Linked DNA regions of Homo sapiens: region 2 is linked to region 1. The links come from fine-mapping of genetic effects on gene expression. A gene starts in region 1. The other region holds a variant in brackets. All regions are shown on one strand. Distances are between the middles of the regions.

Region 1 (8,309 bases):
GGGAGGCTGAGGCAGGCGGATCACCTGAGGTCAGGAGTTTGAGGCCAGCCTGACCAACATGATGAAATCTCATCTCTACTAAAAAATACAAAAATTAGCCGGGCGTGGTGGCATGCGCCTGTAATCCCAGCTACTTGGGAGGCTGAGACAGGAGAAACGCTTGAACCCAGGAGGCGGTGGTTGGGGCGAGTGCCACTGCACTCCAGCCTGGGCAACAAGAGCGAAACTCTGTCTCAAAAAAAAACTTAAAAAAATCAAAACAAAAATGTTACTTATTTATTTATTTTTTTGAGCTGGAGTCTCACTATGTTGCCCAGGCTGGAGTGCAGTGGTGCAATCTCTGCTTGCTGCAAGCTCCACCTCCCGGGTTCACGCTATTCTCCTGCCTCAGCCTCCTGAGTAGCTGGGACTACAGATGCCTGCCACCACGCCCAGCTATTTTTTTTTTTTTTTTTTTTTTGAGACGGAGTCTTGTTCTGTCGCCCAGGCTGGAGTGCAGTGGCGCAATCTCGGCTCACTGCAAGCTCCGCCTCCCAGGTTCATGCCATTCTCCTGCCTCAGCCTCCTGAGTAGCTGGGACTATAGGTGCCCGCCACCACGCCCCGGTAATTTTTTGTATTTTTAGTAGAGACGGGGTTTCACCATGTTAGCCAGGATGGTCTCGATCTCCTGACCTCGTGATCCACCTGACTGGGCCTCCCAAAGTGCTGGGATTACAGGCGTGAGCCACCGCGCCCGGCCAATTTTTTTGAATTTTTAGTAGAGATGGGGTTTCACCGTGTTAGCTAGGATGGTCTCCATCTCCTGACGTCGTGATCCACCTGCCTCGGCCTCCCAAAGTGCTGGGATTACAGGCTTGAGCCACCGGGCCCATCCACTTATTTTACTTTTTGAGACAGTCTCACTCTGTTGTCCAAGATGGAGTGCAGTGGCACGATCGTGGCTCACTGCAGCGTTGAACTCCCAGGCTCAGGTGATCCTCCCATCTCAGCCTTCCTGAATAGCTGGGACTACAGACATGGTCCAACATGTCTGGCTAATTTTTCTATGTATACATATTTTCAATTCTCATTCAACACCTTTGGTAAATTTTTGTACTTTTTGTAGAGACGGGGTTTTGCCATATTGCCCAGGCTGGTGTTGAACTCCTAAGCTCAAATGATTTGCCTGCTTTACCCTTCCAAATATTTTAGTTTTTGAGAAAGCTCTCACTATTTTACCTAAACTGGTCTTGAACTCCTGATCTCAAGCAATCCTCCTACCTCAGCCTTCCAAAGAGCTGGGAATGGCAAAAATGTTACTTATCAAAATGAAAGGCCAGGTGTGGTGGTTCACTCCTATAATCCCAGCACTTTGGAAATGCGAGGCAGGTGGATCACCTGAGGTCAGGAGTTCAAGACCAGCCTGGCCAATATGGTGAAACCCCATCTCTATTAAAAATACAACAATTTGCCAGGCATGTTGGCACAGGCCTGTAATCCCAGCTACTGAGGAGGCTGAGGCAGGAGAATCACTTGAACCTGGGAGGCAGAGGTTGCAGTGAGCCGAGATTGCACCACTGCACTCCAGCAGGCAAAACAGAGCAAGACCCTGTCTCAAAAAAAAAAAAAAAAAAAACGAGAGAGAATAGGTCATAGAATAAAAACATTTCAGCTCAAATTTTATTTAGTTAATTACTATTATTATTCTTTTTTGTAGCATCGGAGTCTTGCTATGTCACTCTAGCTGGCCTCAAACTCCTGGCCTCAAGCGATTCTCTTGCCTCAGTTTGCAAACTGCTGGGATTACAGACATCACCATGCCAGGCCACAACCCAAACTTGAAAAAGAAAATCTAAGTGGCCTTAGAAGAGTTTGCAAGTCAGCTGACCAATGTGGTACCTCCTTAAGGAGGGCCTCTGAGGCCCGATGAAAAAGGCTTATATAAAAGGCTCATGACCAGCTCTGCCAGTGATGAACATGTGTCAAGTCGTTCTGCTGTCCCCAACTCCCGGACCCAGGTGGCTCTGAATTAGCTTCAGCTAATAAAGAACAAAGACGGGGGGCAGAAAGGCTCCCCAAACTTGTGCAAATCCAGTGAGAAAACACTTTGCACATCATCTGTCTCAGCTGTTCTGCAGGTGAGGCACACTCAGAACTGCACCACCCCAGGCAAGCAGTTTGCCAGGACTCGGGGGCCTCAGGGTTTCATCTCGGGGCCTCCGCCTGCACCAGCGAGTGGGCCTGGCTCAGGGCGAGCCTGTCCTTCTTCTCCTTCTGCAAGACCTGCTCCTCCCACAGCGCCTGGTCCACCTGATCGTCGGTGAGCACGACAGGCTTGTACTTCTCATCGAAGAGCCGCTCGTTGGTCTCGGAATGCAGCTGCTGGGGCCCGACCACCCGCAAATGCGCCGGCAGGTGCAGGAATTCGTCGTCGTTGATGTCGCAGTCGCGCATCCAGGCCCCCAGCACCCACCAGCGACCCACGAAGCCCACGTCCAGGACCCGGCCGGGGAAGTCGGTCCAGCGGGGCTGCAGGTAGCGGCAACGCGCCTGGTAGAGGCTGGCCTGGGCGTCGAAGGGCGCCTCGTACACCAGCGAGCAGAGCCCCAGGTTGACGTAGCGCAGGCGGCCACGGCCCCGCAGCCAGAGCAGCCTCTGCACGAAGGCTTCGGACTCGCGGTTGCGGGTGGCCGGCGCCAGCAGCAGGAGGGTCCCCGACGCCTCCAGCAGCGCCTCCTCGAAGGCACCCTCGCTGGGCGCCAGCGTGAAGCAGGCCGCCGCGCCGCCCAGCAGACCCACATACACAGCGGCGCGCCCCGGCCGGGCCCTAGCCTCCGCCGAAGCGTCCCTGCAGGCCTCGGCGTAGTCCCGGAGCAGCGCGCGGGCCCAGGACCCTGAGGGGAGAGGAGCGCGGTAAGAGTGATCCGGCCGCGGCGGCCACCCACCCTGTCGCGGCGGCCACCCACCCTGCCGCCTTCCGCCGCTACTCACCCAGCCGCGCCCACACTCCCGGCTTCGCCACTACCGCGTCGCCCGCCTCTGCGCGGCGCCGGGACCAAAATCTCCTCAGAGCCGCCGCGGCCATCCTCTTCCGTCTTGGGGGTCCTTGCTCCGGGAAGAAACTCCTGATACCCGACGTTAAGAGCCCGGGAGTCTCTTCTGCGCAAGCGCCAACTTTACCGGAAGTGGCTTCCCAACGGGAGAGGATAGAAAGAGGACAGGCGCCGGATGTTGCTGTCAGGTCTGAGTCGGTTGGAGTCTGACGGGTAGGCGAGACGCGCAGGCGCAGAGAGCCCCAGCCACGCCGGCCCAGGTGGCCTCAGGTGAGGGGGGGCGGAGCGCACCTGTGGGGACGGGACGACGAGTTCAAGCCTCCGTGGGTGCAGTTGGTCGCCAGGTAGGGCTGGGGGCCGAGGGACCGGCTCGGGGGCGGGGGGGAAGTGTGCCTGACCGGTCTCTGTCCTCAGCGAGGGATGCGGAGACGCCCCTGAACGACCATGGCATCGGCCGACGAGCTGACCTTCCATGGTGAGTGCGGCCCCGACGTGGCCGGATCTCCCACTCCCGCCCCGGGCCAGAACCTCCCCCCGATACGGCTTCCAATTTCTCTACCCCGAAGCCTAGGCGGCTGTGAACCCTGACCCAGGAGTGAGACCCATCTCTGACTCGAACCCCGCCCCCGCCCTGAACTCAGACCTCAAACCCGAGCCTCTCGTCCCCAGACCCTGACCCCATCCCAGCGTCAACCCTAAGTTGCAGTTCCACTTTAGGAGGAAGGGAACAGATGTCCTCCGGATGCCTCCAAACTGAGGAAGTTGGGCCCCACCTTGGGGGAGATCAATGGCTCAGCAGAGCCTCCGCCCCCAGATGAGCATCGGTTTAGCTTGGGCCCAGTCGAGTTCTTTCCACCCCTCAAACGTGCGTGTGTCCCATATACCTCCTCCACAGAATTCGAGGAGGCCACTAATCTTCTGGCTGACACCCCAGATGCAGCCACCACCAGCAGAAGCGATCAGCTGACCCCACAAGGGCACGTGGCTGTGGCCGTGGGCTCAGGTGGCAGCTATGGAGCCGAGGATGAGGTGGAGGAGGAGAGTGACAAGGCCGCGGTGAGTCCCTGTGTCCTGCCTCCTTGCAGCCCCCAGCTGACCCAGGCTCTCCGGGCAGGCACTGAATGCCCGCAATGTGCAGCTCCTGCAGGAGCAGCAGCAGCAGCAGCAGCCGGGATTCTGGACCTTCAGCTACTATCAGAGCTTCTTTGACGTGGACACCTCACAGGTCAGGCTGGGGAGGCAGGTGGGATGGGGCTCAGAGTTATGCTCAGGGTTCAGCCACTCTTCCCCTGGGCAGGGTGCTGGTGATGGTGGGTGCTGGTGAACGAACTGTGGTGCTCTCAAAGGGTTATGGTGGGACTGGTTATGGATCGGGACTATGGGAACACAGGGGACACACACAATCTGGTGGGTTAGAGAAAGGCCTCCTGGGGGAGGTGAGGAATTGGCTGAGACCTAAAGGAGACAGAAGGCTTCCCTGGGGAATAGGGTAGGGAAGCAGGAGTATATGTTCCAGGCACAGGGAACAGCATATGCAGAAGACCAAAGATGGACTGGGCGCAGTGGCTCCTGCCTGTAATCCCAGCACTTAAGGGGGCCGAGGTGGGCAGATAACCTGAGGAGTTCAAGACCAGCCTGGCTAACATGGGGAAACCCCGTCTCTACCAAAAATACAAAAACTGCCGGGTGCGGGGTGGCTCATGCCTGTAATCCCAGCACTTTGAGAGGCCTGGGTGGGTGGATCACCTGAGGTCAGGAGTTTGAGACCAGCCTGGCCAAACATGGTGAAACCCCGTCTCTACTAAAAATACAACAAAATTAGCCGGGCTTTGTGGTGGGCGCCTGTAATCCCAGCTACTCTGGAGGCTGAGGCAGGAGAATCGCTTGAATCCGCCAGGCGGAGGTTGCAGTGAGCCAAGATCGTGCCAGTGCACTCCAGCCTGGGCAAAAAGAATGAGACTCTGTCTCAAAAATAAAATAAGATAAATAAAATAAAATTAAATAAAAAATAAAATAAAATAGAAAAATTAGCCAAGTGCAGTGGTCGGCGCCTGTAATCCTAGCACTTTGGGATGCCGAGGCGGTGGATCACTTGAGGTCAGGAGTTGGAGACCAGCCTGGCCAACGCGGTGAAACCCCATCTCTACTAAAAATACAAAAATTAGCCAGGCATGGTGGCACACACCTGTAGTCCCAGCTACTCAGGAGTCTGAGGCTCGAGAATCACTTGAACCTGGGAGGCGGAGGTGGTAGTGAGCCAAGATCGTGCCACTGCACTCCAGCCTGAACAGAGTGAGACTCTGTCTCAAAAAGAAAAAGGGGGTGCTGAGGCCGGGTGCGGTGGCTCACGCCTGTAATCCCAGCACTTTGGGAGGCCAAGGTGGGAGGATCATGAGGTCAGGAGATCGAGACCATCCTGGCTAACACGGTGAAACCCCATCTCTACTAAAAATACAAAAAATTAGCCGGGGGTGGTGGTGGGCGCCTGTAGTCCCTGCTCTTTGGGAGGCTGAGGCAGGAGAATGGTGTGAACCCAGGAGGCGGAGCTTGCAGTGAGCCGAGATGGCACCACTGCACTCCAGCCTGGGTGACAGAGCGAGACTCCGTCTCAAAACAAAAAAAAAAAGAGGGAAAAAAAAGAGGGGGCTGGGAACGGTGGCTCACGCCTGTAATCCCAGTACTTTGGGAGGCCGAGGTGGGTGGATTACCTGAGGTCAGGAGTTCGAGACCAGCCTGGCCAACATGGTGAAATCCCGTCTCTATTAAAAATACAACTATTAGCCAGGCGTGGTGGCACACGCCTGTAATCCCAGCTACTCGGGTGGCTGAGGTAGGAGAATTGCTTGAGCTCGGGAGGCAGAGGTTGCAGTGAGCCGAGATCATGCCACTACTCCATCCAGCCTGGCCGACAGAGCAAGACTCTGTCTCAAAAAAAAAAAAAAAAAAAAAGAGAGGGAAAGGCTGAGTTCTTTCAGGTGGGGCATGGAAAGAGAAGGGTGGAGGTCAGCAGGGAAGGAGCCTCTCAGGACAAGGGAGAAGCTCCTGGCAGACTTCCATCCTTGACCTTGGCCTTGCCCCCAGGTCCTGGACCGGATCAAAGGCTCACTGCTGCCCCGGCCTGGCCACAACTTTGTGCGGCACCATCTGCGGAATCGGCCGGATCTGTATGGTGAGTGAGGTTGTGCATTTGGTTCCTTGATGGATCACTCAACAAGTGTGGCCTGAGTTGCAGATGCCAGTGTATAGCTGCGGACAAATCAGTCACTCAGACAGTGTGACTTACCTGCTGTTCAGGGAGACAGAGACATGAAGGACTGCAGAGGGTGGCGGGTAGAGAGCAGCAGAGCAGACAGGAGGAGTGGCCCTGCAGTTCTGCAGGGTGCAGCAGGGCAGGCCTCCCTGAGGAGGGTGAGGGAATGAGCCTTGTTGGCAACAGGAGGGGTGGGGGAGACCTAGGAAAAGAGGCTTCCAGAAACGACGTAAGCTTCATGGCAGGAACTTGCATGAACTGCAGGGCGGCATTACCACTGGAGCGAGTGAGCTGCAGGGAGGTCACAGGCGAGGGGACAGATCACACAAGCCTCCCATGCTGTGGCAAGAAGAGATCTTTTTTTTTTTTTTTTGAGACAGAGTCTCACTCTGTCACCCAGGCTGGAGTGCAGTGATGTGATCTCAGCTCACTGCAATCTTCCCCTCCCGCATTCAAGCGATTCTCCTGCTTCAGCCTCCTGAGTGGCTGGGATTACAGGCACGTGCCACCATGCCCGGCTGATTTTTATATTTTTATTAGGGACGGAGTTTCACCGTGTTAGCCAGGCTGGTCTCAAACTCCTGACCTCAGGTGATCCACCCGCCTCGGCCTCCTAAGTGCTGGAATTACAGGTGTGAGTCACTGTTATCTGGCCGAGAATGGATCTTTAAGTGTTTTCGGGGTCCCTCTCGCCATCATGAGTGGCGAGGGCGGAAGCCAGGAGGCTGGGGTGGAGGCGGCCACATGGTGGGGACTGTGGATGTGGAGAGTGGCACTGGATTCTGGAACGTGCTGGGGAAGTAGAAGAGACTGGCTTTGTGGCTAGATAGGTGGGGGTGGGGGGAGTGGGAGGTTAGGAGCGGAGGCAGGCTCTAGGGATTTCTGCCTGGACTAACGGGATGGATAGAGTTGCCACGTATCCACGGGACCAGCTTGGCAGTGAGGGCAGAGGGCAAGGGTGTGGATGAAGCCGGAGATGCCCACCCGGGAGCTTGAACTGGAGCCTGCAGTGCTCAGGGCAGAGCCCTGGGCTCTAGAGGAGGCATAAGGCCCTGGGCTTGAAGGAGGTCATACTATGGGTGAACGCAGACATGGAAGGGGCCAAGAACTGGGCCTGGCTGCTCCCCATGGCTGAAGGGGTCAGAGAGTCAAAGAGGAGGTGACAGGGGTTGAGGAATTGGCACCAATGAGGTGAGACACAGGCCAAGGGTGTGCAGTCCTGAGTGTTTCGGGGAGGGGGATGAACTGACAGCCAGCACTGGGCTCAGCCACCAGGAGGCCCCCGGTGTCCTGGTGAGTCAGGCAAGGTGCTTAGGAAGAGGCTGGGGTCTCAGCACAGCTCAGTCAGGATACATGTCTGCTTGTCCTGGGAGTGCAGGGCCCGGGACCCTGACTGTGCCCCCTACCCCCAGGCCCCTTCTGGATCTGTGCCACGTTGGCCTTTGTCCTGGCCGTCACTGGCAACCTGACGCTGGTGCTGGCCCAGAGGAGGGACCCCTCCATCCACTACAGCCCCCAGTTCCACAAGGGTAAGCAGACGGGCAGGCCCAATGCCTGGCAGGGCCCTGGGGTACAGGGGGTGACTGCTCACCTTGCCCCCCCCAGTGACCGTGGCAGGCATCAGCATCTACTGCTATGCGTGGCTGGTGCCCCTGGCCCTGTGGGGCTTCCTGCGGTGGCGCAAGGGTGTCCAGGAGCGCATGGGGCCCTACACCTTCCTGGAGACTGTGTGCATCTACGGCTACTCCCTCTTTGTCTTCATCCCCATGGTGGTGAGTGTGGCCTGGCGCGGAGTGGGTGGTGGCTGTGTGGGGACACTGGCATGGTCACCTGCCGCCTCATTCCCATGGTGGTGAGGGTGGCCTGGTGCAGAGTGGGTGGTGGCTGGGGGGACTGGCATGGTCACCTGCCGCCGTGTTGCTCCCAGGTCCTGTGGCTCATCCCTGTGCCTTGGCTGCAGTGGCTCTTTGGGGCGCTGGCCCTGGGCCTGTCAGCCGCCGGGCTGGTATTCACCCTCTGGCCCGT
Region 2 (15,336 bases), 20 kb after region 1:
GGGGGACCTGGGGGCACCATGGGAAGTGACCCAGCCTGGAAGGAACCTCTGGCTCCTGCTGACCAGAAGACATGTGACTGGGAGAGGGGAGGGCTGCCTTTAACCCCTGGAAGAGCTTCCTGAGCTGGACAGGAGTCCTCCTTGCACAGGCCTGGCCTCCCCCCTCCCTGCAAGCTGGCTGCTGGGACGTCGGGGGCACATGCAGCTGCCCACAGAGCCTGACTGCCATCTGGCTTCATGTCCCATCGGGAGGGGCCCTCTCTGCTGGGGCTGTCCCCACCCCCATCCCCACCATCAGGGCAGAAGGGGAGGAGAGTGGGGCCCACAGCCCCTGGAGCAGCCTTGCTTCCCATACTCACACCCAAGACATGAGACACAGCTGTGGGACGCCACCTCCCACCTCCAGGAGCACAGCCAGCCAGGACCCTAGGGCCTGGATCCAGGGCGGGCCAGAGATGAGAGTGGAAGCTTCCCCCCTGCCCCTGCCTGCACAAGCCCCACCAGCCTGCTGCTGCCCACGCTCCATCCCATGGCTGCTACCCTGGCTGGGGACCTGTACCCTGCCACACGCACACACAGCTGCTTGCCTGTACAGAAATGCTCAGACGCTCACATACCTAGCATGAGAAGAGCCACAGGCACATGCCTCAGGCGTCAGGGCTGCACAGACCCCAAGACAGATGGGCAAATAGAAACAGTCACCCAGGCCAGGCACAGTGGCTCATGCCTATAATCCCAACACTTTGGGAGGCTGAGGCGGGTAGATCACCTGAGGTCAGGAGTTCGTGACCAGCCTGACCAACACGGTGAAACCCCATCTCTACTAAAAATACAAAACTTAGCTGGGCGTGGTGGTGCACACCTGTAATCCCAGCTACTCAGGAGGCTGAAGCACAAAAATTGCTTGAACTGGGGAGGTGCAGGTTGCAGTGAGCCGAGATCGCACCACTGCACTCCAGCCTTGGCAACAAGAGTGAAACTCTGTCTCAAAAAAAGAAACAGTCACCCAGTGACCAGAGGCCATACCCAGAGGCACGGATGGGAAGTGACAGATGGGCTTGCCAGACAGCTACCTCACCTCCTCACACACGTACACTCGCACCCACACCCCTGCATTTGCACACATGCTCGCCCACCCCACCTCCTGGACTGTGAGGAGAGCAGGGCTTGTTGGGGAACTGCTGACCACAGAACCTGTCCCAATCCCCACTCCCAGCCAGAGGCTGTCCCGCAGGAGCAGGACATGGGACGGCAGAGGTGCCAGGAGATCCTGTGTACCCTGTCTGGGCGAGTGGGCAGCTGGGTGTCTGGCCGTGTTTGGGGCCCAGGGCTCCAAAAGCCACAGCTGGCTGGAGTGGGGTTGGGGTGGGAGCGGGGGAAAAGCCCAGGCTTCCCTACACCCCGGGCCACCGACAGTAAGCAGGGAGCTGAAGCACTGATGGCCTGGCTCAGCGGCAGCCAGGGCCTCCACCGAGGGGCCTGGCCTGTGTACCCCCCAGTGCTCACCGCTGGGCTTCAGGTACTTCTTGGCGTGGAGGTAGCTCTCCAGCATGCGCTCGTTGAAGAGCATGTAGCCCATGGGCTCCGAGATGATGATGTCCACCTGCTCGGGGAGTGACACCTCCTCCACCTTGCCCGGGATGACCACGATGCGGTCCGTCAGGTTGTTACTCTTCACCAAGACCTGCAGGCGGGCAGGGCCATGTGGGCTTCCCTGCGTCTTCCTGCCATGGGGCCCTCCCTAGACCTGCTCTCAAGGGACAGCCTCCATCCACACATGGGCATTGGGTGCCCCTCTGCCTGCTTCGCTGGCGCCCCAACCATGGCTGCGATTGGCCATAGCCTGTTAAGAGCTCACTGTGGGCCGGGCACGGTGCCTCATGCCTGTAATCCCAGCACTTTGGGAGGCCGAGGCAGGCGGACTGCTTGACCTCATAAGTTGGGAGACTAGCCTGACCAACATGGAGAAACCCTGTCTCTACTAAAAATACCAAAAAAAAAAAACTATTTTTTTTTTCTTTGAGACAGATTCTCACTCTGTTGCCCAGGCTGGAGGTGGTAGTGGCGCCATCTCGGCTCACTGCAACCTCTGCCTCCCGGGTTCTAGCGATTCTCCCACCTCAGCCTCCCGAGTAGCTGGGACTACAGGCACCCACCACCACGCCTGGCTAATGGGGTTTTGCCACGTTGGTCAGGCTGGTCTCGAACTCTTGACCTCAGGTGATCCGCCCACCTAAGCCTCCCAAAGTGCTGGGATTACAGGTGTGAGCCACCATGCCTGGCCTAAAAATACAAAAATTAGCCAGTTGCAGTGGTGGATCCCAGCTATTCAGGAGCCTGAGACAGGAGAATCACTTGAACCCGGGAGGTGGAGGTTGCAATGAGCCAGGATCGCACCACTGCACTCAAGCCTGAGCAACAGAGTGAGACCCCCCCCAAAAAAAAAGAGAGTTCACTGTGACCCCGGCCCTGCCTCAGGGCCGTCCCCTGCTGCGGCCTCCTAGGTCCCCCACCCTGCGTCGACAACTGCTGGTGGCTGCAAAGAGGGGGACGAGCAGACATCACAACAGCCACCAAAGCTAAAGCTGGATGCACCCCCAACCCAGCGATTCCAGGGCTAGGGTGTGTCCTACAGACACAACCGCATGTGGGAGAGGGGCTCAGGACAGCAGCGTTGGCCACGTGAAGACCTGGAAGGAGTCTGAGTGTCGCTGCGGACACAATGCAGCTAAAGCAACAGCGGCACGGCTGGGCACAGGGGTGCTCTGCGGCGGCAAGACAGAACAAAGATGGCCCCTCCACGACCCCGGCGACCCCAGATCCATGGGAGAGGCAGAGCAGGGAATGGAGGGTGCAGCCTCCACTGGTGCGAGAGGACGCTCACGGAATAGCTCTGCTCAGACTTTGTGGCCGTAGCTCCTCTCTCATGATGGGGCTGGGGGTGGGAGCTGGGGTGGGGAAGGAGAGCACGCTGTCTGCTCTTTTTTAGCTTTTATGTTTTGAACTTTGTGAATGAAGGTTTCAGTGCAAAAAAAAAAAAAAGAAAACAGGGAAATGACATGTGGCCCTGACTACCGGCCATGAGAGAAAATCATCTCAGGCCCTGAAGCCCCTCCCTGAAATGACTGTCTTGGGGACAATAAAGAGACCAAAGCACAGAAGTAATGTCCCCAGGCCCCTGGGGGTTCCCAAGCTTCTCTAGGCTGGGGCCGGCATGGCACTCATGGGCGAGGACGAGGCTGGGTGGGCACCAGCGGGCCACTGACCTCAGCGTGCTGGGCCATGGTGCTGGCCTCCACCGCGTAGATTTTCCGTGCTCCAGCTTGGGCGGCAAAAAACGACAGGATCCCAGAGCCACAGCCAACATCAAGAACGATCTGAGGGAGGAGTGGGAGGTGAGAGCGAGACATAGGAGGCGACGGTGATGGGGAGGTGACAGTGATCATAAGGGATGTGCACATCATGAGGCGTCTGTCTTCACTCTCAATGTTTGCCCTTTATGGGCTCTTGGTCAAAATGAAGCGAGAACTCAAGATGAGCCATGGGCCAGTCCTCCGGGAGGAGAAGCCCTGGGGAAGCTCCCGCTCGGCCCCAACCCTGTGGCCTGCAGGCCTCCGGATCGTCTGGGGTGAGTGGCACGGGCCTCCCCTGGAAGCTCACTGGCAGTTGAAAAGCATTTTTCCGGGGCCTCCGCAGTTCTAGCATGGAGGAAAGGGGCCCGAGTTGTTGGTGGCAGTGTCTCCCAGCTCCATGCTGACTCATGCCTGGAGAAGCAGCCCGTCTTGGCTGGGGCAGGTGAGCCGCCCAAGCCCTGGGGCCGGCTGGGCTCCCCGCAGGGCTACTGGCCCGTGGTGGTCACTCATGGCAGAGTCCAGGCCAGGGTCTGGGAGAACACACCACCTGTTCTGGATTTGTGGGATTGCTTCCACACGAGCAGACCAAGGACAGACATTCCTGGTGGTGACAGGCATGAGCTTTTGAAGGACAAATGCTCTGGGCATGGTGAGTGCCTGCAGGGGAAGCTGGGGTCAGGTGGGAAGGCCTCAGGGTACTGATCAGAGCTCCAGATGAACCAGGAAATGGATCTCCATCCTTGGGGAGCAGGAAGGGACTTCACCAACGGAGGACGTCCTTCCCAGACCTCAGTGGCCAGGAGGAGGCTCGGGATGGCCCTGCCAGGGCAGACACTCTTGTGTCAAGACAACTCCTCCCCAGGGCCCAAGGCCTACCATCCTCTGGGACGGTAAGCGATGCTAGGGGGGCGTGACCCAGGCGCTGGATGAGGCAGATCCATGCAGATCCACGTGGAGAGATCCCCAAAATACTTGGAGGAAAAAAACAGGCTCCCATTTGATTCAAAAGAGAAAACAGGCCAGGTGCGGCGGCTCACACCTGTAATCTCAGCACTTTGGGAGGCTGAGGCGGATGAACTGCTTGAGGCCAGAAGTTTGAGACCAGCCTGGGCAACATGGCAGAACCCCATCTCTACTAAAAATACAAAAATTAGCCGGGCATGGTGGCACATGACTGTAATCCCAGCTACTTGGCCGGCTGAGGCACAAAAATCGCTTGAACCCAGGAGGCAGAGGCTGCAGTGAGCTGAGATTGTGCCACTGCATTCCAGCCTGGGTGACAGAGTGAGAATCTGTCTCAAAAAACCCCCCAAAAACAGAAAGAGAAAACAAAAATTCTGAGTAAGCCGGGTGCAGTGGCTCATGCCTGTAATCCAAGCACTTTGGGAGGCTGAGGTGGGTGGATCATGAGGTCAAGAGATCTAGACCATCCTGGCCAACATGGTGAAACCCTGTCTCTACCAAAAATACAAAAATCTGCTGGGCTTGGTGGTGTGCGCCTGTAGTCCCAGCTACTCAGGAGGCTGAGGCAGGAGAATTGCTTGAACCCGGGAGGCGGAGGTTGCAGTGAGCCGAGATTGTGTCACTGCACTCCAGCCTGGTAACAAAGCAAGACTCCATCTCATAAAAAAAAAAGTAAAAATAAAAAAATAAAAAAGGTAGACACCAAAAACTCTGGCAAATGGGATGAGAAGGGAATACATTATACATTTCTACTTTTTTTTTTTAAGACGGAGTCTTGCTCTCTTGCCCAGGCTGGAGTGCAGTGGCACAATCTCGGCTCACTGCAACCTCCGCCTCCCAGGTTCAAGTGATTCTCCTGCCTCAGCCTCCTGAGTAGCTGGGACTACAGGTGCCTGCCACCACGCCCAGCTAATTTTTGTATTTTATTTTAGTAGAAATGGGCTTTTGCCATGTTGGCCAGGGTGGTCTCGAACTGCTAACCTCAAGTGATCCACCTGCCTCAGCCTCCCAAAGTGCTGGGATTACAGGTGTGAGCCACTGTGCCTGGCCGATTTCTACTTTTGAATACAGACGTTCTGCTCTGTTCTCTCTCTCTTTAATCATGAGTGCACATTATTTGGTGATATCAAAAAGCTTATTTATTTTGTTTTTGAGGCAGGGTCTCGCACTTTGGCTCAGCCTGGAGAGCAGTACCCCAATCACAGCTCACCGCAGTTTCAACTTCCTGGGCTCAAATGATCCCCCTGCCTTGGCCTCCCAAAGTGCTGGGATTACAGACAGGTGTGAGCTACTCTGCCCAGCTCAATAAAATAATTGTAAAATATACGCTGATGTCTGTATGGGGAAAAATCTTGAAGAAGAGACCTCATACTGAGGGGTAGCGGCTATCTTGGAGGGAACTGATAGAGGCCTCTCAAGCCTATAATGTACATGCTGTGTTGAGTTTATATATCAAATGCATTTGTTTTTCTTGCTTTTTGTTTTTTTTGTTTGTTTGTTTGTTTTTTGAGATGGAGTCTCACTCTGTTGCCCAGGCTGCAGTGCAGTGGCGCGATCTCAGCTCACTGCAAGCTCTGCCTCCTGCGTTCATGCCATTCACCTGCCTCAGCCTCCTGAGTAGCTGGGACTACAGGCGCCCACCACCACGCCCAACTAATTTTTTTGTATTTTTTAGTAGAGACGGGGTTTCATCGTGTTAGCCAGGATGGTCTCGATCTCCTGACCTTGTGACCCGCCCGCCTGGGCGTCCCAAAGTGCTGGGATTACAGGCGTGAGCCACCGCGCCTGGCCTTGTTTATTTGTTTTTTTTTAAGAGACAAGAGTCTCGCTCTGTCGCCCAGGCTGGAGTGCAGTGGCAGAATCATAGCTTACTGCAGCCTCAAACTCATGGACTGAAGCGATCCTCCTGCCTCAGCCTCTGCAGTAACTGAGATAAATGCATTTCTAATCTGAGAAAATTAAAGATAAAATCAATGAGCAAAGAAAAAAAAAACCGAGACAGAAGCAGAGAGGTGGGCACATGCGCGGGCCACTCACCTTGTCCTTGAAGTCGGTGTGGTTTTGCAGGATGGCGCGCTGGTAGGTGCCTGTCCGCACGTAGTCCTGCATCATGTTCTGCTGCTGGGACAGGTAGCCATAAAACTGGAACAGAGACATACCGATGGCACGGGGCACATGGTGGCACGAGGCAGCCAAGGCCCTGGCCAGCCCTGTGATAGAGCAAGGGGCCATCTAGGGCACAAACCTCCCTCGGGAGGTCGTGCACCCTCTGCCTGGGCCCCACTAGCAGCTCCAGGAGAGGGAGCAGGAAGCCGGAGGGCAGCCCCCAGGAGGACACCGCCACTATCACTGCAGCCGATGGCAACAGCTGATGCCGCCTGGACCTGGAAGCCGCCCAGGAGAACTCAAGATTTGCCACAGGCAGGGTTCTGGCATCGGGGGCCACCTGCCTCATCTTGAGGGCCCCAAAGAAGAAGAGAAGCAGATCGAACAGAGCCCTAGAACTCAGAGCGCCAGGCAGGTGAGGTGTGGTGTCTCTCTGTAAGACAACGGGCGATCGGGAGGCAGCGTGGCACCTGGGCAGGGGCACAGACTTTGGCATCAGGCAGACCTGGCTTCCCATCTTGGCTCTGTTGCATATAGCTGTGTGACTTGGAGCAAGTCACTTAACCTCTCTGAGCCTCAGTTTTCTCATCTGTAAAATGGGGACAATAATAGCACTTACCTCCTAGCGTTGTTGGGAGGGTCCAAGTGCTTCTGTGCATGTGACAGCGCTTAGACCAGGGCCTGGCATGCAGGGAGCGCTCAGGGCATTGTAACTGCTCTACCGTTATTCACAACGCCTGTGGCCCTGAGCTCCACCTGTGCTCAGATCCTTCCAGCAACCCTCTCAGGCAGGCACCTGCATCTCCGCTTCACAGATGAGGAAACTGAGGCCCAGCCAGCAGAGGAAACCTGCCCAAGGCTACATGGCCAGTAAGGGACAGAGCCAGGACGGGAACTTGGGTGGGCCTTCCCTGTGCTGTGTGGCCTCCTGCGGGTGAGTGGCAGGGGGGCTGCCGGGGGGAGGCGGCCTGGCTGAGGGGGAGTACAACCCACCTGGAAGTACTGCACGGCAGAAGACTCCTCCGTCCGCTCGCTGAACACAGACCGCTCCAGGGTGTGGCCCCGGCAGGTTTTCAGGATGTTGTAGAAGGAACAGAAATCTGGAACAGGGAAGCCAAGTCACCGGGGGGCGGTCAGCAACCCAGCATGTGGCCATCTGGGAGGGAAGGTTCTGGATGGCCGTATGTCCTGACGTTTCTCCCTTGAACATACAGGGCTGGTGATTTCTCTTCCCCGAAAAACAATTTTCAAAGTTCAAAGAAAAGATGAAGGGCAGCCATGCCTGCACTGTGGTGACTGACATGAGAAGAGGGCAGGTAGCCTGCATGTGGGGCTGCTGTCTGGTGGGAGTGGGCCTGGGGATTCCTCACCAAAGGGCAGCTTGGTGAAGCTCTCTCAAGCACACGCCCAC[C/T]GGCCCAGGAGTCAAAGCTCTGGCAAATAAGCCCAAGTCCACCCAGAAGCTCAGGGCAGCATCTGTGTGGGGGCAGCAGACACTGCAATGTCCAGTAAGAGGGGACTGGACAAATGCCAGGGGCACAGAAAAGCACAGTAGAGGCCAGGTGCAGTGGCTCATGCCTGTAATCCCAGCACTTTGGGAGGCTGAGGTGGGAGGCTGAGGTGGGCAGATCAGCTGTCAGGAGTTCCAGACCAGCCTGAGCAACATAACAAGACCCTGCCTCGTTAAAAAACAAAAACAAAAACATGAAATAAAAAATTAAGAAAAGCATGGCAGAGAATCACCAATCACCACCCTTCCCAGAGATGCAATGGTATGTGGCCCTTTAAAGCAGGCTCTATCTATTTGGCTGGGGACAGTGGTTCTCAACTGTAATCCCAGCACATTGGGAGGCTGAGGCGGGTGGACTGCTTGAGCCCAGTTTAAGAGGCCAGCCTGGGCAACATAGCAAGACCCTGTCTCTACAAGAAATAATAAGCCGGGCACGGTGGCTTATGCCTGTAATCCTAGCACTTTGGGAGGCTGAGGCGAGTGGATCACTTGAGGTCAGGAGTTCGAGACCAGCCTGGCCAACATGGTGAAACCCTGTCTCTATTAAAAATACAGAAATTAGCCAGGGGTGGTGGCGGGCACCTGTAATCCCAGCTACTCAGGAGGCTGAGGTGGGAGAATCACTTGAACCCGGGAGGTGGAGGTTGCAGTGAGCCAAGATTGTGTGACTGCACTCCAGCCTGGGCAACAGAGTGAGACTCTGTCTCAAAATAAAATAAAATAAAATAAAATAAAATAAAATAAAATAAAATAAAATAAAATAAAATAAAGCTATATTTATTAACATAGAATAATAGCCACTAAATTATATCAAGTAAAAAACAAAACAATATTTAAAAGACAATCTCTTTAAAAATTAAAAGACACGGTCAGGCATGGTTGCTCACGCATGTAATCCTAGCACTTTGGGAGGCGGAGGCAGGCGGATTACCTGAGGTCAGGAGTTCAAGACCAGCCTGGCCAACATGGTGAAACCCCCGTCTCTACTAAAAATACAAAAAATTATCTGGGTACAGTGGCACGTGCCTGTAATCCCGGCTACTCAGGGCGCTGAGGCAGGAGAATCGCTTGAACCTGGGAGATGGAGGTTGCGGTGAGCCGAGATCGCGCCACTGCACTCCAGCACTCCAGCCTGGGTGACAGAGCGAGACTCCGTCTCAAAAACAATGAAAAGACACAGTTCGGGATGAGCAAGTTCTGGAGATGGGCGGTAGTGACAGTTGCACAACAATGTTAATGTGCTGCTTGCTACCAACCTACACACTTCAAAAGGGTTAAAATGATCACATTTTGTTATGTAGATTTTAGCACAACTTTTAAAAACTGACAGAACTGAAATAAAAAATATTAAAATACAAATAGTCTTAAGAGTGGGAACGGCCGGGTGCAGTGGCTCATGCCTGTAATCCCAGCACGTTGGGAGGCTGAGGCGGGTGGATCACTTGAGGCCAGGAGTTTGAGACCAGCCTGGGCAATATGAAAAACTCCATGTCTACTATATTAAAAACACAAAAATTAGCCAGGCACGGTGGCACACACGTGTAGTCCCAGCTACGCGGGAGGCTGAGGCATAAGAATCGCCTTGAACCCGGGAGGTGGAGGTTGCAGTGAGCTAAGATAGCACCACTGAACTCCAGCCTGGGCAACAGAGTGACACTCTTTCTCAAAAAAAAAAAAAAAAAAAAAAAAGGGGCCGGGCACGGTGGCTCACATCTGTAATCCCAGCACTTTGGGAGGCTGAGGCAGGTGGCTCACTTGAGGCCAGGAGTTCAAGACCAGCCTGGGCAACACAGTGAAAACCCATCTCTACAAAAAATTAGCCAGGCATGGCAGCTTCACACAGCTGGCCCCGAGGGCTCAGGCTGCCCAAGGTACATCTGGGTCACTGCACAGCTACCTTGAGACAAGGGGGAGGCCGGCAGTGGCTCATGGGCACGCAGCCTCTCCACCTCCAGCTGTCCTCGCACCAGCACCTGTGTCAACCACTGGACTCACTTCAGGTCTCTGGTAACCAAGCCTGCGGTGGGACCTTCAGACCATCTCCAGCCCTGGGCATTCCTGGACACCTCTCTGCTACCCTGGCTGCATCCACCTGGGGTTCTCCCACCCCTAGTCAGGAATCTTGTGTCCACCTGTGCCCCCAAGGTGGGTTGGTTAAGCCCTTCTGGTGGCTTCTCTGCGCCCTGAGCAAACTCTTCCTGCCTCTAGGACCTCGCCTCACTCCATCCACAGCTGGCCCAGTCACAGCTGGCCCAGGGCTGGCCACTGCCAGAAAGACTGGTCCCAGGTGGTCAGGATGGGCCTCTTGGAGGTGGGGACATAGAAGCCAAGCCCCAAAAGACCCGGAGGAGCCGGTGAGGGAGGGTCTGGGATCCAGGGTCTGCCCAGGCCAGAGTGTATTCTGGGCATACCTGCATGTGGGAATGTGGTTTTGAGGGCAGTGGAGCCTTCTTAAGGATGCACGGGCCACCCCTCAGCCAGGCTCTACGCCCCTGCCCACCAGGGCTCTGGGCGCTTTGGGCTGGTGTCACCGGAATGGAAGGAGGGCCACGTACCGTTGGGTGTGGCGAACTGGATGAGGACGCTGTTGCAGCCCAGGGTGATGATGAAGGACTGCTTGCCCACACGGCTGCACTCTGTCTCTCGGGACACTGAGCACTTAAAGACACACACATCTTCATCTACGAGAGAAGACAGGCTGGCGTGAGCGGTGCAGCCCTGTCAGCTGCCTTCTTTTGAGCCTGGGTCCCTGTCGCCCTCCTGCTGCCTCCCCTTGGTGCCCCCAGATTCTTCCAGAGTGCCACAAAACCACCCTGGCAGCATTGCCGGGTGCCCTGACTGCCCAGCCCACATGGAAGACAAGGGAGCGACTGATCAGACAGCAGGAACACAGCCTGTGTCCTCAGGATGATCAGGGCTGAGACGGGCATGGTGAAGGCTGAGGTGGGCAGACAGGGCCACAAGGCATGGTGCTGGCCCACAGGAACTCAGAGCTGGAGCTGCCTCTGCCCTGCTCGGCTGAGCCCTTCTGTTCTTGGATGGGCGCAGAGCAGTGACTGCATGTGGCCAGTGGAGTCAGACCGCTGGGTTCACACCCCATCCATGCCATTTGTTCACTGTGACACAGGCATGTCCCTCAGCCTCTCTGGAACTGGGGTTCTCACCATCAGATGGGGCTAATGGCGGGGCAGTGGTCTAGTGAATTAGGACACTGTCTCCCTGTACCCATCATGATAGCTGTTACCAGTCATTCATTCCACAAACCTGCAGCCACTCCACTCCAGCCAAATGGTGAAACTTAGCGATGCCAGGAACGGGCCAGCCCAATCAGGCACTGTGCCCCTGCCTGCCATACTGCAGTGGGACAGGTGCATCATCTGTAGTATTCTTGGCAAAAATGTTTGCCCTAGTCTCATCTTCAAGGGACAACAGAAAAGGACAAGTTGTGGGGCAGGCTACAGGACAACCAGCCTGGTCTCCTTGAACAGGCCAATGTCAGGAAAGACCAAAACGGTGGGAGCTATTCCAGAGTGCAGGAGACAAGAAAGAGGGGAGTGCCCAATGCAATGCAAAGTGGGACCCTGGGCTGGAGCCAAACGAAAAATGTTTTTAAAAGTTATACAGGACAACTGGGGAGGCTGGGCCCACACCTCTAATCCCAGCACTTTGGGAGGCCAAGGCAGGAGGATCACTTGAACCCAGGAGCTGGAGATCAGCCTGGGCAGCATAGCAAGACCCCATCTCTACAAAAAAATTTAAAAATTAGGCAGGCATGGTGGCATGCGCCTGTTGTCTTAGGGACTCAGGAGGCTGAGGCTACAGTGAGTCATGACTGTGCCACTGCATTCCAGCCTGGGTGACAGAGCAAGACCTTGTCTCAAAAAAATAAATAAAGGACAACTGGGGAGCTGGACAGAGTGGCTCACACCTGTGGTCCTAGCTACTTGGGAGGCTGAGGTGGGAGGATCGCTTGAGCCCAGGAGGTTGAGGCTGTAGTGAGGTATGATGGTGCCACTGCACTCTAGTCTAGGCAACAGACGTGAGATCCTATTAAAAAAAAAAAAAAAGACAACTAGGGAAATGTGAGTGTGGACTACATATTCCATAATTTTAAGTTATTTGGATGTGACAATGGTATTGTGGTTTTGTAGAGAAATGCATATTTTCTTAGAAAACATATGCGGAAGTATTTATGGCAAATTCCCATGATGTCAGTAGCTTGCTTTTGAATAGCCCATCATAACAACAACAACATGAGTGCAAATATGGCAAAGTGTTCTCAATCACCCTGAATAGCCAAAACAGTCTTGAAAAAGAATGAAGTTGGAGGATTCCCATGTCTCAATTTCAAATTTTACTACGAAGGTACAGTAATGAAAACAGTGTAGTGGTACTGGCAAAAGAAAGGAGACACAGATCAATGGAACAGAATCAGAGTCCAGAAATAAACCCTTATACTTATCCTCAATTGATTTTTGATAAGGATGCCAAGAACATTCAATGGGGAAAGAATAGTGTCTTCAACAAACACTGTTGAGAAAACTGGATAACCACAGAGAAAAGAATGAAGTTAAACCCCTACCTCACACCATATACAAACAAAACAGAACTCAAATGGAGCAATGACCTAAATATAAGAGCTAAAACAAGAAAACTCTTAGGAGAACTATTTGCAAATCATCTATTGTTAAGTATTTAGTGTCCAGAATATATAAAAAACTATTTTAGGGTCAGGCATGGTGGCTGACACCTGTAATCCCAGTACTTTGGGAGTCAGGCAGATTACTAGAACCCAGGAGTTTGAGACCAGCCTGGGCAACATGGTGAAATCCCGTCTCTACTAAAAATATAAAAATATTAGTCGGTGTAGTGGCATGCGCCTGTAGTCCCAATTACTTGGGAGGCTGAGGTGGGAGAATCACCTGAGCCCAGGAAGTTGACACTGCAGTGAGCAGAGATGGCAACGCTGCACTCTAGCCTGGGTGACAAGAATAAGAGCATGTCTCAAAAAAAAAAAAAAAAAGTCTGGGCACAGTGGCTCACGCCTGTAATCCCAGCACTTTGGGAGGGCAAGATGGGTGGATCACGAGGTCAGGAGATCAAGACCATGCTGGCTAACACAGTGAAACCCTGTGTCTACTAAAAATACAACAAAACAAAACAAAACAAAATTAGCTGGGCATAGTGGCAAGTGCCTATAGTCCCAGCTACTCAGGAGGCTGAGGCAGGAGAATGGTGTGAACCCGGGAGGTGGAGCTTGCAGTGAGCCAAGATCACACCACTGTACTCCAGCCTGGGCAACAGAGTAAGACTCCGTCTCAAAAAAAAAAAAAAAAAAAAAGAAACAACAATTATTTTGTATCTATTTTTATTATATTTATTTTTTGAGATGGAGTCTCACTCCATCACCCAGCCTGGAATGCAGTGGCACAATTTTGGCTTGCTGTGACCTCTGCCTCCCAGATTCTAGGGATTCTCCTGCCTCAGCCTCCCGAGTAGCTGGGGGACTACAGGTGTGCACCACCACGTCCAGCTTATTTTTGTAGTTTTCGTAGAGATGGAGTTTCACCATGTTGGTCAGGCTGGTCTTGAGCTCCTGAGCTCAAGCGCTCTGTCTGCCTCGGCGTCCCAAAGTGCTGGGATTACAGAGGTGAGCCACTGTGCCCGGCCTATATATTTTCTTGAGACAGATTCTTGATCTGTTGCCCAGGCTGGAGTGCAGCAGCACTATCTTGGCTCACTGCAACCTCTGCCTCCTGAGTAGCTGCGTTCAAGCGATTCTTATGCCTCAGCCTCCTGAGTAGCTGGGATTACAGACATGCATCATCACACCCAGTAATTTCTGTATTTTTGGTAGAGACGGGGTTTTGTCATGTTGGCCAGGCTGGTTTTGAAGTCCTAGCCTCGTGTGATCTGTCCGCCTCGGCATCTCAAAGTGCTGGGATTACAGGCATGAGCCACTGGGCTGGGCCAAGAACTTTTTTAACTCAACAACAAAGAGATAGCCAGGGCCAGGCACAGGCTCATGCCTGTAATCCCAGCACTTTGGGAGGCCAAGATGGGAGGATAACTTGAGGCCAGGAGTTCAAGGTCAGCCTGGGCAACATAGTAAGACCCCATCTCTATCGCTACAAAAAAATAAACAAAATTAGCCGGGCATGGTGGTGCATGCCTGAGATCCCAGCTACTCGGGAGGCTGAGGTGGAAGGATTGCTTGAGCCCGGGAGCTCAAGGTTGCAGTTAGCTATGACTGCCTGTGAACAGCCACTGCACTCCAGCCTGGGCAACATAGCAAGACTCCACCTCTTTAAAAAAACAAAAACAAAAACAAACAAACAAACAAAAAGCTGGCCAAGTGCAGTGGCTCATGCCTGTAATCCCAGCACTTTGGGAGGCCGAGGCAGGCAGATCACCTGAGGTCAGGAGTTCAAGACCAGCCTGGTCAACATGGCAAAATGCCGTCTCTACTAAAAACACAAAAATTAGCCAGACATGATGGTGGGTGCCTGTAGTCCCAGCTACTCAGGAAGCTGAGACAGGGAGAATTGCTTGAATCAGGGAGGTGGAGGTTGCAGTGAGCTGAGATAGCGCCACTGCACTTTAGCTTGGGCAACAGAGTGAGACTCCGCTTCAGAAAAAAAAAAAAAAAGTCCGGGTGCAGTGGCTCACACCTGTAATCCCAGCACTTTGGGGGGCCGAGGCGGGTGGATCACAAGGTCAGGAGATCGAGACCATCCTGGCTAACACGGTGAAACCCCGTCTCTACTAAAAATACAAAAAATTAGCCGGGTGTGGTGACGGGTGCCTGTAGTCCCAGCTACTCGGGAGGCTGAGGCAGGAGAATGGCAGGAACCTGGGAGGCGGAGCTTGCGGTGAGCCGAGATCACGCCACTGCACCCCAGCCTGGGCGACAGAGCCAGACTCATCTCAAAAAAATAAAAATAAAAACAAAACAAAGCAAAAAAAACCAACAGACACTCGTATGCAAGCATTCACAGCAGTACTTATTCACGACAGACACAAGATAGAAATACAACCCAAATGTCCATAAACTGACAAACAGATAAACAAATATGGCTTATCTATAAAATGAAACATTATTCAGCCATAAAAATAAAGGAAGCACTGAGCCATGCTGCAACATGAATGAATAGCAGAAACATCATGCCGAAAGAAGCCAGACACAAATGATTCTATTTATATGAAATAGTCACAGAAGGCACACTGCTGGTGGCTGAGAGCTGGGAGAAGGCAGGAATGGGGAGCAACTGCTTAATGGATGTGGGGTCTCCTTTTGGGGTGACAAACATATTTTGGGAGTAGATAGAGGTGATTGTTATGCAACATTGTAAAAGGGCTAATTTCATGTTATGAAACAACAGCTCTTGACCTCCCAGGCTCAAGACA

Evidence for each region. PIP is the estimated chance that this variant, and not a neighbour inherited with it, causes the effect.
Region 2: its variant is fine-mapped to the expression of YIPF2 in whole blood (TOPMed, PIP 0.95).

The regions. Positions count from the first base shown.
Region 1 is chr19:10,923,580-10,931,888 of GRCh38, reverse strand. It overlaps YIPF2 (Yip1 domain family member 2), which reads left to right and starts at 3,250. Exons shown (of 10, transcript NM_001321439.2): 1 at 3,250-3,378; 2 at 3,449-3,509; 3 at 3,930-4,090; 4 at 4,173-4,259; 5 at 6,116-6,203; 6 at 7,697-7,813; 7 at 7,890-8,056; 8 at 8,212-8,309. The coding sequence starts at 3,479. It overlaps TIMM29 (translocase of inner mitochondrial membrane 29), which reads right to left and starts at 3,078. Exons shown (of 2, transcript NM_138358.4): 1 at 2,973-3,078; 2 at 1,635-2,875. The coding sequence starts at 3,066. The coding sequence ends at 2,187. RefSeq lists silencers at 2,633-2,682, 2,723-3,002 and enhancers at 3,216-3,916, 3,917-4,619.
Region 2 is chr19:10,900,225-10,915,560 of GRCh38, reverse strand. CARM1 (coactivator associated arginine methyltransferase 1) reads right to left here. Exons shown (of 16, transcript NM_199141.2): 2 at 10,485-10,610; 3 at 7,416-7,522; 4 at 6,354-6,458; 5 at 3,267-3,377; 6 at 1,507-1,684. Among named protein-coding and RNA genes, the nearest start is that of YIPF2, 21 kb to the left of the region's middle. RefSeq lists a silencer at 10,348-10,535. The variant C/T (reference allele first, on the strand shown) is at 7,834.